Homo sapiens: one gene and its partners. The protein of the gene in region 1 interacts with the protein of each later gene in a pairwise test. Each region holds a gene or a part of one and is shown on either strand. Other genes may lie near its edges.

What was found.
Region 2: the proteins of RIN3 (region 1) and ZNF71 interact in a two-hybrid assay, tested with the Homo sapiens proteins (one large-scale study listed by BioGRID and IntAct).
Region 3: the proteins of RIN3 (region 1) and PLB1 interact in a two-hybrid assay, tested with the Homo sapiens proteins (one large-scale study listed by BioGRID and IntAct).
Region 4: the proteins of RIN3 (region 1) and ASB8 interact in a two-hybrid assay, tested with the Homo sapiens proteins (one large-scale study listed by BioGRID and IntAct).

What each region holds. Positions count from the first base shown.
Region 1 is NC_000014.9:92,653,281-92,656,780, forward strand, and holds part of RIN3 (ras and Rab interactor 3), read left to right. Parts: intron 1-3,500. UniProt on the Homo sapiens protein: Ras effector protein that functions as a guanine nucleotide exchange (GEF) for RAB5B and RAB31, by exchanging bound GDP for free GTP. Required for normal RAB31 function.
Region 2 is NC_000019.10:56,601,802-56,605,301, forward strand, and holds part of ZNF71 (endothelial zinc finger protein induced by tumor necrosis factor alpha), read left to right. Parts: intron 1-3,500. UniProt on the Homo sapiens protein: May be involved in transcriptional regulation.
Region 3 is NC_000002.12:28,499,060-28,502,559, forward strand, and holds part of PLB1 (phospholipase B1, membrane-associated isoform 1 precursor), read left to right. Parts: intron 1-3,500. UniProt on the Homo sapiens protein: Calcium-independent membrane-associated phospholipase that catalyzes complete diacylation of phospholipids by hydrolyzing both sn-1 and sn-2 fatty acyl chains attached to the glycerol backbone (phospholipase B activity).
Region 4 is NC_000012.12:48,147,516-48,151,015, reverse strand, and holds the end of ASB8 (ankyrin repeat and SOCS box protein 8), read left to right. Parts: intron 1-875; coding exon of another isoform or gene 876-899; exon of another isoform or gene 900-929; intron 930-1,017; coding exon 1,018-1,650; 3' UTR 1,651-3,227; downstream 3,228-3,500. UniProt on the Homo sapiens protein: May be a substrate-recognition component of a SCF-like ECS (Elongin-Cullin-SOCS-box protein) E3 ubiquitin-protein ligase complex which mediates the ubiquitination and subsequent proteasomal degradation of target proteins.

The sequences.
Region 1 (3,500 bases):
TTGACTGTATAGGATCTGTATTATCTGCACCCTCTCTTCCACCATCAGGGGCCCACTGCCAATTACTCCCTGCCATGGGGGACAAAGACTGGCCCCTTCGCCTCAAGCAGGACCACTGTGTGGTGCAGTTTATGCTCCAGGGCCCGGCGAGATCTGGCTGAGGCTGAGTTCATCCTTGCTCAAGCTCGCTCTGCGGCTTCCCACTGCGCTCACTCTCTGTCTTCTGAGAGTCTCCGCAGTGAAATCATATGCACCCAGATCCCTCTTTCACGCTCTGCTTTCAGGGAACCAGCCCCAAACAGCTCACTCCTCTGACCACCCCTTCTAAAGTAGCCCCTAGCCTTCCCCACCCTCACCAGCCTCGAATCCAATAATTATCAAAGCTTTTCCGATTGTGGTTCACGGTGAAAAGTACTTGTGAACAACCACACGCCTACGTATATTAAAAATATTCAGGCCAGGCGCACTGGCTCAAGCCTATAATCCCAGCACTCTGGGAGGCCAAGGCAGGAGGATCGCTTGAGCCCAGGAGTTCAAGACCAGCCTGGGCAACATGGCAAAACCCCGTCTCTACAAAAAATACAAAAATTAGCCAGGCATGGAGGCACGCACCTGTAGTCTCATCTATTTGGGAGGCTGAGGCAGGAGGATTGCTTGAGCCCTGAAGGCCAAGGCTGCAAAGAACCAACATCCTGCCACTGTACTCCAGTCTGGGTGACAGAGCGAAACCCTGTCTCAAAAAGAAAAAAATAGCTGGGCGTGGTGGCTCATGCCTGTAATCTCAGCACTTTGGGAGGCTGAGGTGGGGGGATCACTTGAGGTCAAGAGTTCGAGACCAGCCTGGCCAACATGGTGAAACCCCATCTCTACTAAAAATACAAAAATTAGCCAGGTGTGGTGGCGCATGCCTATAATCCCAGCTACTCGGGAGGCTGAGGCAGAAGAATTGCTTGAACCTGGGAGGCAGAGGTTGCAGTGAGCCGAGATTGTGCCACTGCACTCCAGCCTGGGCGACAAGAGCAAAACTCTGTCTAAAAAAAAAAAAAGAAAAGAAAAGAAAAAAAATACATTCTGTCAGTTCGCACTGCCGTAGCCAAAAAGTGGTTGCTAAACATTGAGCTGCTTCTGAGCTAGTTTGTAAATAGTTACTGCCCCAGCCGTCCCCTGGCGTCCCTAAGCCTCTCCTTCCCCACCCAATAATGAAAGAGTCAGTGCTGGGTACGGTAAAGGACACGTGGGCCTCTGAACACAGTAGCTTCGTAGCGAATGTTTCTTAGAAAAGGAGCTTCAGGTGTTCCTTTCCCAGGGCTACTGGATTTTGCTAGCAGACTCCTGAAAACGAATAGGTTTGCCAGGCCACAGGATTCATGATGGCGTTTCAGGTGTGGTGAGGGGTGATGGGATTGAGATCTGAGGCCAGTGCTGTGTGTGCGTCTGCACAGGGCCCTGTAAGCAGAGAGTCGACAAAGAGTTATTGGGCACCCAACTCCGCATCAGGTGCTGGCTCAGATATAGAGACAGAGGTGAGCAAAGCACTCAAAAGTTTCTGCCTGCGGGGAGCTTACGGTCTATCAGAGGTGACAGGCAATCAGCAAGAAGGATGAGTAGGGCCGGGTGCAGTGGCTCATGCCTGTAATCCCAGCACGTTGGGGGGCAGGTGGATCACCTAAGGTCAGGAGTTTGAGACCAGCCTGGCCAACATGGTGAAACCCCATCTCTACTAAAAATACAAAAATTAGCCAGGTGTGGTGGCGCGCACCTGTAATCCCAGCTACTCGGGAGGCTGAGGCAGGAGAATTGCTTGAACCAGGGAGGCAGAGGTTGCAGTGAGCCCAGATTGTGCCACTGCACTCCAGCCTGGGCAACAGAGTGAGACTTTGTCTCAAAAAAATAAAAGTTAAAAAAAAAAATAGAAAAATTAACTGGGCATGGTGGCATGTGCCTGTAGTCCCAGTTACTCAGGTGGCTGAGGCACAAGAATTGCTTGAATCCAGGAGGCGGAGATTGCAGTGAGCCGAGATTGTGCCACTGCACTCCAGCCTGGGCAACAGAGCGAGACTCTGTCTCAAGAAGGAAAGAGACAGAGAGACAGAGAGACAAAGGGAGAGAGAGAGAGAGTAAAGTATAGTGTAAGGAGACACATTAGTGAGTGCATGTGGATGGAAGTGAGGTCAGGAGGCTGTTGGGGGGCAGGACCCCAAGGACCTTGTGAGCCTCTCTATCAACCTGACTTTTCCTGTATGTGAGATGGGGTCGTGCAGGGTTCACGTCCAAGGGTGAGTGACCTCACTCACATGTGAACAACGTCACTCTGGCCGTCACACCTAGTGGGAGCAGAGAGACTCAGACTCAGTGTGAGGCTACTGTCAGAGCCAAGGTGAGCAGTGAAGGTGGCTGAGACCAGGACGGAGGCAGCACAGATGGGGAGACATGATTGGATTCTGCCTGTTGTGAAGCTGGAGCCACAGGACTGGCTGGAGGCCAGATGCAGGAGTGGTAGAGGGGAGGTAGGATGTGGACGAGCATTGGCGTCCCTGGGAGGACACAGCGTCCATCCTGGGGCAGGCACTGGGGAGGAGTTGAGGAGTTCAGTTTGGGACATGACACTGGAGATGCTTATTAGATACCAGGTGGGGAGGTCGAGCGGGCCATGGAGGGCTGAGTCTGCAGTTCTGGGGCTAAAGAGAGATGTCTGGGAACTGTCAGCACAAAAGGAGCCATGAGACTGGATGAGATCATCCGGGTCTGAGGACTGAGCCACAGGCACCGTGCAGACCAGGAGGACACAGAAGGGCATGGGAGGACGTGGAAGGACATGGAAAACTCCAAGTGGCCCAGAGGAAACTGTGGTCAGCCCTGCCTTCCAGAGTTGGGGGAGTGTAAGAGCTGAGGCCCAAAGGAGGAGTCAGGGATGCTAAGCCGTGGAAAGGGTAGTGGAAGGACTTTCCTTCCGGAAAGGGATGACAGCGTGGACAAAGGCCGAGAGGTGGGGAACGAGGCTGGAGGATCACGGGCCATTCACACAGGCAGTGAAAGTCAGCCTGAGGATTTAGCCCAGAGGTGATGGAGCCCCTGAAGGGTGTGTGTGGAGGGCAGAGGAGAGGGGACAAGACAGGGGGACGGCTCAGGAGGCTGCGGCGGGGCAAGGCCAGTACCCGGTGGCCTTCAGCAGAGCAAAGGAGGTGGAGCACAAGCTGGACCTCTGCTGGAAACAGCAGGAATGACTTCAGCCTTGGGGCAGCTGGCTGGCAGGATGCAGACACACCATGGGTCCTGTTAAGGCCAAATCTGCTTCGGGCACCAAGATGTCAAGAGGTGCTAGACTTGGAGTTTGTCCTGGCAGGTGATATGGCAAAGTGTCACCAGAGCCTGCCGTGGGCACGAATGTGTGGGGCAGAGAGGTTTCCAGGCAGTGAGAGGTGGCAGCTGAGCTGAGCCACCAAGGATGGGAAGGGCTGGAGCTACAGAGATGGAGAGAAGGGCCCTTCAGCCTTTGGGAA
Region 2 (3,500 bases), on another chromosome or scaffold:
TCTCTGGACTCTTAGGAGACACAGGTGGGCACCTGTGGGAAGTGGTGGTTTAGACATGTGACATTGAGTGAAAACTTGCGCAGGACCATGCTGGATGTGTGACCTTTAAAATGGGCAAACACACTAAATGCTTCTTGTGAATGTGAATGCCCACATGTGTGATGAAAGTACAAAAGCTTATGGGAATGAGGCCCACAAATTCACCCATGATTTTACCCCAAAAGATAATCACTCTGGAATGTTTGAGTCTGGCTAAGCAATTTTAATGTTAAAGATTGCTTTTTCATCAGAGATTTCATCCTGAGCATTTCTCCACATCATTAAAAACTCCTTTGTAACGTCCATCTTAATGACCCCATAAAAGTGTTGTTCAGTGGCCATACCCTGGTTTACTTAATGGTTCCTCTGTTGTTGGACCTTTATTGGTTTCCAAGTATTCTTTTTTTGGTTATAAACAGTGTCATGAGGGACACTGGGCACAAATCTTTCTTTGTGTCTTATATGATTTCTTTAGGAGTGATTCCTTGAAGAGGAAGATTGGGTTGGGTATTTTTGAGGTATTTTGATATTATTTCCACATCAGTTACGGCGGTATGTATTCCCACCAGCATGTCTGAGCGGGTCTCTGATGATTTATATGGCTGTTGTCAGGCATTTATTCTGCATGTTGGATATATTTAGATTGGTGCAATATTGCACCATGATAATAAATGATAAATGGATATAAATGACAAATGCTATAAACCATGATGAGCCTGATAGGGGACAAATGGTGCCACGTGATTTATTTCTGAGTAGCATTGTTTGTATTATTAGTGAAGTTCAAGTCTTAGAAAATGTTTACTAGCCATTTCTGTGGGCAGGGAAATGATCCATCTTGTGCTTTAGCAGTCTACAGGAATCTGAGTATGCTTTAAAGACTTTACAGAAGCAAATGTGTGTGTGTAAATATTTGTGGCAAATATTCTTCCCAGATTTGCTTTTTGTTTCTTTATTTTACTTTATTTTTTCTGTATAAAAGCATTTCATATTTTTAAAATCAAATCTGTTGGTTTCTCCCACTGTGGTGTCTTTCTTCATCTTTAAGCTGTGAAAGGGTTTCTCCATCCACAGGTCACATAGCAGCTATATTTTCTTCCTTTTCACCATTTGTCATTTGAATGTTAACAATGAACTTTTGAATCTACCTGTAATTGATTTTGCTATATAAATGTGTCAGTAGACTTATTTGGGAGCTTTGGTTTATTCTGTCTTCATTTGTTTGGTACCTTTGTTGAGGTACACATCACGTATCACAAAGTGTACAATTCACTGATTTTGGGTACATTCATAGAGTCGCGTTAACCATCACCACAGTCCATTTCAGAATATTTTCATCATCCTGAAAAAGAGCCGAGTACCCATTGGCACTCATTTCCATTTTCCCCCATCAGTCCACGGCCCCTGGCAACCAGTAATCAGCTTTCTGTCTCTATGAATTTGACTGTTCTGGACATTTCAAATAAATGGAATCATACATGGTGTGGTCTTTTGTGACTGGCTTCTTTCACTCAGCATAATATTTGCAAGGTTCAACCATGTGGTAGCACATATAGAGCTTCATTCCTTTTTTTGACTGAATAATATTCCAGTGTGTGTTTCTACATATTTTATTTATCCTTTCATCAGTTGATGGACATTTGGGTTGTTTCCACTTTTTGGCTATTATGAATAATGCTGCTATGAATATTCATGTATAAGTCTTTGAACATATGTTCTCAGTTCTCTTAGGTGTGTACCTGGAAGTGGAATGTTGGGTCATATGGTTAACTCTGTTGAACCAGTAAAGGAACCACCAGACTGTTTTCCTAAGCGATTGCACCATGATGCCTTCATTTTTGTCTCATCTGTGATTCTTGCCTTGAATTCTTCTTTTACCTACATTACTTAGAAAGATTTGTTGATTGTTTTTATTTCAACAGGGTTGGGAGTTTTGGTTTAAGTTTTTTTTTTTTTTAATTACTACTAGTGTAATTACATTCAATTTTTAAAAAAAATTGAGCCTGTCTGGTTTCAGCGTTTTCCCTGTGGTGAAATGGTTTGTGTCATTAGACAGGAAACCGAAAAAGATGGAGTACTAGAAAAAGGGGCCTTGGACACGTACGTGCAGAGAACTCAGAGGCCCTTTGTTAGCACTTCTGTCCCAACACGATGGGCTCCCAGACCTGGAAGGCTGTGTTCTGTGTCTCAGCACAACCCTGGTGCCAGTCTGGGCTTGGTGCCTGGAGACTGCTCAGTGAATAGTTGAGTGAATTAGGTGGGTGTACTTAGGGAAGACTTCCAGAAGGAATTGTTGTATTACAATTTTGTAAAATAAATAAATATAGGTGTGAGAGGGAACTTTTGGAGGTAATGGATCCGTTTATGGCCTTGATGGTGGTGATGGTTCCACGGGTGTATATGCATCTGCAAACTCATCAAGTTATGTATATTATTAAATATGCACAGCTTTTTATATATCAGTCACACCTCAATCAAGTAGTTTAAATTTTTAGAAAAGGAGGAATTATTAGCTGGGCTGGCTGAAAGATACATTGGGCCAAAAGGTCAAATAATATCATATAAGGATCTACAGTTGTACATAAGATATATATTAAATATCAACATTAAATAATAGCAAGAGTCGACATTTACTGAGAGCTTCCTCCATCACACGAGGCACTGTGTTTGGACCATATTTGTACACATTTAACCTTACGACCCTGTGGAGGGGGACATTGTTATCAGGAAGCCTGCCTCTCATATGAGGCTTAGAAAGAGAAAGACAGTTGTCCAAGGAAACACAGCTCATGAGGGGCAGAGCCAGGATTCCGTTGCAGAGTGTGGTTCCTGAGCCTACACTCTGAACCACCAGCCCAACTGCTTTCTATCAAAGGTGACCCCTCAGGCAGAGGAGGCTATCTTGAGCCCAAGCCCCAGAAGGGCACCCTAGGACCATAGAGGGACTAGCCAGCGGGGGTGAGGCCTCCCCTTGGGATTCAGTTGGTGGTGGGGACACTCAGTATGCTGGAGAGAGCCAGTGAGCTCTGAGTGTCAGTAACAATAGCTGGCACTTATTGAGTGCCTGCTGTATGCTATGCATTACCATTCTGAGTGTCTTACATAAATAAGTGGGCAGGTGGGGCCTGTAGCAAATTGGAGCTTTCTTGCCCCATCAAAGGGTCAGCCACCACTCAGCTCCAGCCTAGAGTGGCCAGATATTCTGCTGTTTAAAGAGAAACTAGAAATTCATTTTCTTGGTAAATTGTGGATGTGTTTTTCATGTGAGTAACAATTAAAAACAATTTTGAAACCCCCATAGGAGCAAAATAGAAATGTGTACAGCTGGCTTCAGGCCCAGGTACATCTCATATGCTCTGTGTGCTCAGAACTCCCGTTCTTTCCTTGTGCCTTGGGGGTTGTACCACTGAATCAGTTCAGAACAGCAGGTCCCTCTGTAGGACACAATAGGTCTCTCATTA
Region 3 (3,500 bases), on another chromosome or scaffold:
TAGATATTTTTGTTGTGTGGCAAGTGGGTTTTAAAATTTTTATTTTGAAATGTTTGTTATTGATATATAGAAATAAAGTGAATTTTGTGTTGATTTTGAACTCAACTAAACTTAAAAATTTTAATAATTTATATATTCTTTTGGGTTTTCTATTAGGTTGGTGCAAAAGTGATTGCTGTTTTTGCCATTACTTTTAATGCTGTTTAATGCTCCCACCAGAAGAGCTAATGCACATAGCGTTGTTCCAACTGACCTTTTAAAAAATAAAATAGAGAATCCAGGCTCAAGTCTGGATTAGTTCTCTATTGCTTTGTAACAAAGCAATGGCAAAATAGCACTCACTTTTGCACCAACCTAACACACATAATCCTGCCAATAATGACGGTGTTGTTACTTCCTCTTCAATCTGTGTGCCTTTATTTCTTTTTCTTATCTTACTGTGCCGGCTGGTGCCTGCACAACAGTTTTTTTTTTTTTTTTAAAGAGGTGATGATACCAAAGATGGTATTCTTATATTATTCCCAAGTTCAAAAGGAAAATGTTAAGCTGGACGTGGTGGCTCACACCTGTAATCCTAGCACTTTGGGAGGCCGAGGTGGGTGCATCACCTGAGGTCAGGAGTTTGAGACCAGCCTCACCAACATGGTGAAACCCTATCTCTACAAAAATACAAAAATTAGCCAGACGTGATGGCGGTTGCCTGTAATCCCAGCTGTTCGGGAGGTTGAGGCAGGAGAATTGCTTGAACCTGGGAGGTGGAGGTTGTAGTAAGCCGAGATTGCACCACCGTACTCCAGCCTGAGTGACAGAGCCAGACTCTGTCTCAAAAAAAAAGGAAAATGTTTAATTTCTCATCAGTAATTGTGCTGTTTGCTAATGGCTTTTTTTGTAGATAAGCTCTATGAGATTAAGAAACCTTTATTCCAAATTTGCTAAGAGATTTTTTAAAATGAGAAGTGGATGTTGAAATTCATCTAATGCTTTTTCCGTATTTATTGAGATGATTGTGTGACTTACTCCTTTTATCTGCTAATGTTGTGAATTAAATAAATTGACTTTTTATTATTTTGTTCATTTCTTCAGTCATTGCTTATTAGATTTATCAGAGACCACACGTTGCATTTATTTGCCTTGTCTCTTTAATCTCTTTTCATCAAGAATAGTTCTCTCGGCTTTTTGTTTGTTTCTTTTGTGTCAGTGAACATCTTCAGCTGGTTTTTGTGTATGAACAACAAACAGTGATGTTCATGAATCCCCTAGTTGGTGATGCCAAATTTGATAACTTGGTGAAGGTGTGGCTGCCTGACTTTTTTCCCTTGTGAAGGTACCTGCCCCATGTGGTTTATAAATTATCCATAGGGAGATACTGTGAGACTGTGTGATTACCCTTTTTCCCAGTGATTTTTAGCATCCATTGATACTTCTTGCCTAAATTTTTACCATGGTGATTGGAAGATGGTGATTTTTCTGTCATTCCTTCTTCCTTCTGCTATTGTCAGTTGGGTTTCCTCCATAAAAAAGAGATTCCCTTTTTTCCCCCACTTAAATAAATATTTAACTGAACTCCCCCCTCCTTTTTGTCTTATCTTTTTCATATGAAATTCATCTATGGGGGGCTAAGCAGGGAGGATAGCTTGAACCCAGGAGTTGGAGACCAGCTCGGGCAATATAGTGAGACCCCGTCTCCAAAAAAAAAGAAAAGAAAAGAAAAGAAATTCACTTATGGACTCTTATTAATCTGTGTGTTGTAATCCAGGCCTGTTATTTTTCATTTTGATGCCAAAGTTATTACAGATTTGGCCAGTGAGAGCCTCTTCAAGGTAACTTCTGTGGCCCTATCAATTTTTAAGCACTTTTAAACTTCATGGTACAAGATTTTCCCTGCTAACCTTGTATTTCCTCTATCCCAAACCTGGAATCAGCTGTTTCTTCAAGGCTTCCATTGGTAGGGGAGTGTTATTTAGAAACCAAGGTCCAGGTGCTAGGAATGTTTGTTGATGCTGAAGTGTTATTGTCTAGGCCCTTTCAGTGACAAAACTAAGAAATGTAGTTTTCTTTTTTAAAAACATCCAATAAATTTATAAAGTTATCTTTAATTTAGGTAGAATTACACTTTTTCATCTCCTTCTTTCATTCCATATTTGTATTGTCCTTCACCCACAGTGCAAATCTGGGTTACAGACACATCAATGAATTTACTCACTTACTGAATCCTACAATACATACAACACAGTACTGGAATTGCTATGACAACACCACCAACAACAAATGAAGTTCAAAATTCCTTTGCCATACTTCCGTCCTTTAGAATATATCCCACTCAGGGTGTATAATCAAAATATTGTGTTCAGAATCACTTGAATTTTTTTTTGTTCTTTCTGTGTAATTATATAACCTAGTGGCATACAGTTAAGTGTGTCTGTATTTAATTTTGTGTTTCTTCTGTTCTTGCTTTTTACTAAGTCTTTTCAATATATAAAACATTAACATTGTTCAAAAGTCGAAGCTATATGAAAAGATGTACTCAGAGAGGTCCCATCCCCTTCCCCTACCCTTTCTATCCCATTTCTGTCATTCCTGTAGGTAACCAATTTTATTAGTTTAATATCCTTTTTCTTTTTGAGAAAATATATTCTTATTTTCCTTTATTCTTGCACAAGATAACCTACTATACATGTTTTTTGCATTTTGATTTTTTTACTTAATTATATGTCCTGAAAATTATACTACATCAGTTCAGAGATCTTTATTTTTTTCCAACTGCAGAATATTCCAGTATGTACCATATATACCACCAGCCTCCCAACATGGCCATTAGGTTGTTTCCAATATTTTGCTATTACAAATACTACTGTCATGAACAGTCACATGCATGTATCTTTTTCAAGTTCAGCTTATGCTAGGCTATACATCTAACTTAGGATAAATTCCTGGAACTGGGATTTCTGGGTCAGAGGGTGAACACACATATAGATTTGTTAGGTATTACCAAATTTCCTTCCATAAGGATTGTACCAATTTGCATTCCTACCAGCAATATATATGAAATTGCTTATTTTTTCATAGCTTGACAATAAAGCTATATTGACAACAAAGCATGCAGTCAAGACTTAGAATTTTTGCAAATGTCATAGGTAAGAAACATTTTAGTTTATCTTATTACAATGTAATTTGATTATGTTTTCATATTTTTAAGGACCATGTGGTCTCAAGGTTACAAAAAGCAATGGGAAATGAATATTTTCCTATTCAGTTAGATGATAGCCTTTGGGAATCATACATACATACATAACATATGTATATGTGTGTGTTCATATTAAGGAAATAACCATAAATTTCTACATCCTTGAGTTTTAATTCATCAGAAATTCATATTAAATTTTGTTAAAGGCCTTTTCAGCATGTATAGAAATAATCATATGATTATTTACCCTTAGATCTATTATGTTGAGTTATATTAATAGACTTGCTAATACTGAATGATCCATTGGGATTGTATA
Region 4 (3,500 bases), on another chromosome or scaffold:
TTCATTCTTTTACCTTTCTGTCCCCACCCTGCTTGCCCCCATTGTATGGTGCTGATACTCTGCCTTTCTTTCTTCTCCTTAACTTAAGCTGTCACTGGCCATCACTTCAGGAAGCTTACCTTGTAGGGGCTGTTTATATTTCCGTTTAATCTTCTCATTGCTTATTGTCTATCCAGGAGATATAAATGCAGAGATCCCTCAACTCTGATTAAATCTAAAGTACCCTTAAAAGTACTTAAAGTACTTAAGAAGTGGTACTTAAGATAGGTTTTAGCCAAATAAAAGGTTGAATTTACTTAAATGTTTCAGGGTTTTTTTTTGTTTTTGTCTTTCATTAATGAGGGTATATGCTATTTGGAAATTTGAAGAAAAAAACTACAGGTGATGCTGACTGTCAGCAAGCCAGCTGCTTTTCCAGCACTGGGAGATTTGTGCTCTTCCTATCACATGCTTTCATTTGGGTTCTCTTGTGAACCCACAGCATATTTTTGCAAAGGTCTGACTTATATTCTAACATTTTGAATTTCTCTGTATGGTTAAAGAACTTAGCAAAAGCTATGTTTTTCAGTTTGGTTGCTACATTAGCCACAGGGTACAGAAAGGGTCAGGGTAAGTAAAATAATCCAAAACTCTGTATAGTCAAGCAGCTTTCCAGTAATGTTTCAGAGCAGTTACGGGGACTTAGACTTCCTCTATTCCTGCCTTACCCCTTACTCTGTGGTAGAGATTCTAATGAATAGATAAAAGAACATTGCAGCAAAAACCAAAATAATGCAGACCAGCTAGTCAGTGCACATAATAGTGTTGACTGTTTGAGGACAGTTCTTTTCCTTTTTGCTCCTAAGCTCCTGTCATATCTTCATCTTTATCACCAGGACTCCCTGGGAGTTGCTTGCTGACCCTCCTGTTCAGAGCACTGCATAGCAAAGGTAGTGGGTAACCATGCAAGCTTCTTTGCTGCTGTCCTGTCTTCCTCTCAGTAGTCTGTCTACTGTAATAGTTCCTCCCTTTTTACAGGTGAATGCCCTGGATGGGTATAACCGAACAGCCCTCCACTATGCAGCAGAGAAAGATGAGGCTTGTGTGGAGGTCCTATTGGAGTATGGTGCAAACCCCAATGCTTTGGATGGCAACAGAGATACCCCACTTCACTGGGCAGCCTTTAAGAACAATGCTGAGTGTGTGCGGGCTCTCCTAGAGAGCGGGGCCTCTGTCAATGCCCTGGATTACAACAATGATACACCGCTCAGCTGGGCTGCCATGAAGGGAAATCTTGAGAGTGTCAGCATCCTTCTGGATTATGGCGCAGAGGTCAGAGTCATCAACCTAATAGGCCAGACACCCATCTCCCGCCTGGTGGCTCTGCTAGTCAGGGGACTTGGAACAGAGAAAGAGGACTCTTGCTTTGAGCTCCTCCACAGAGCTGTTGGACACTTTGAATTGAGGAAAAATGGCACCATGCCACGAGAGGTGGCCAGAGACCCGCAGCTATGTGAAAAACTGACTGTTCTGTGCTCAGCTCCAGGAACTCTAAAAACACTCGCTCGCTATGCCGTGCGCCGTAGCCTGGGACTCCAGTATCTCCCCGATGCAGTGAAGGGCCTTCCACTGCCAGCTTCTTTGAAGGAATACCTGTTACTTTTAGAATAGCCGGAGAAGATGTTTGCACCATCGTGCAGGCAGCTCTGGGTGAGGTTGTCCCTGCAGTACTCCTTGTCACAGAAAACAGAAAAACAGTTGTTCCTGTTGTGTGGTTTATAGATTTCGAAGCAACATGTCACAACAATAACCTCCATAGCACCTCCCCTTCCCAAACCAAACAACCCAACAAAAAAAATCCCTCACTTTTGTTTTCTGTTTATTGCTTACCTGGCTTTTTATATTGCATTTTGCAAAAGAAGAGGTCTCCCTCAATCCTCCCCTTTAGGGAAGGAGTCAACAGTGTAACTAAATTTCTCTAGGAAGATGGAAAGTACTTAAATAATGTGTGTGTGGTTTTCCTTTGGGGACGTGGTTAACGGTCCAGAAGAATCCCTTCTAGAAAGCATTTTAGGCCAGCCATGGTGGCTCACGTCTGTAATCCCAGGACTTTGGGAGGCTGAGGCAGGTGGATCACCTGAGGTCAGGAGTTCGAGCCCAGCCTGACCAATATGATGAAACCCCGTCTCTACTAAAAATACAAAAATTAGCTGGGCATGGTGGCATGCGCCTGTAATCCCAGCTACTCAGGAGGCTGAGACAGAAGAATCGCTTGAACCTGTGAGGCAGAGGTTGCAGTGAGCCAAGATCGCGCCATTGCACTCCAGCCTGGACAACAAGAGCAAAACTGTCTCAAAAAAAAAAAAAAAAAAAAAAAACCATTTTAATTGATCTGTGAAAAAACTTAAGAAAATCACAATTTCAGCTAACAGCAATTGTGTCCCAAAGATGAAGATACTATAACCTCAAATGGTGCAGATCCAGAACTGGGCTGGATGACATCCCTACTGTGCCATGTCCTGGGGCATTTGGAAGGGACTGGACCTCTTTCCCCTCATCAAAGGAAACAGCAGTCTTTGCCTCTTTCTGTTGGTTGTGCCCAAGGGCTACAGTAGCTCTGAAATAACAAGAGCTCTGTAATAACAGTAATAAATAGCTCTGAAATAACAGTCCTAAGAACTCCTAAAGTCCTGAGAACTTTTCTTGTAATGCAGCTTTTTCTCTTCCTGAGAAACAGTGTGTTCTAATGGGATTCCCAGGCAGTTCCTACACCTACGGTGTGTGTTCCAGCAGGGAGGAGTTATGGGCTGGGCTGCCTTTTCCCATGGGTCTTCATTCCCAATGGAAAGTTCACTCTGCTTAGTTTGGAATTATTTTTCTTTCAGTTGTTCTGGAACCTTTGCTTTTTATTGATTTATACAATACAATTGGTGGGAGGGTGGACTTGGGATGGGAGTGGGAAAAGCATGTAAGAGCTCCTTTTGTGATGGTCCATCTACCCAAAAGAGATCTGCTTTAGTGAACGATACTCTTTCATTTTTCTAAATTAGATCAAGTTGTTATTGATTTTAGATGACTTGTATGCAAATTTGAAAAACTTTTTTTTTTAAAGCTGATTGGGAACTACAAACAATGAATGGAATCTACTGACACAGCTAATTGGAAAACAGATGTCTTCTTCTGTCCTATTGATGCTGGTGTTTAAAAAACATCACTTAAAAAAAAAGAATAAATAGTTCTAAAAGCAAGTTTGGCAATTTCTACTTTTCCTACTTTTCTCCAACCCCCCTTAGAAAAAGTTCTTCGTTTACTGCCTGGCTGTTCTATGTAACTTTCCATCCCAACCTTTCTCCCATTAGCAGCAGTGATTCTGGGCATTGCTGGAGTGAACAGGAGGGCTTGGGCAGAGTATCTGAAGAGCTTCCCCTTCCTTTATACCTTCTCCCACCCCAAATTTGGAATTACTGCTTTTATGTTCTCAACTCCAGCTGCACATAAAATCACTAAGGAAGCTTTTTAAA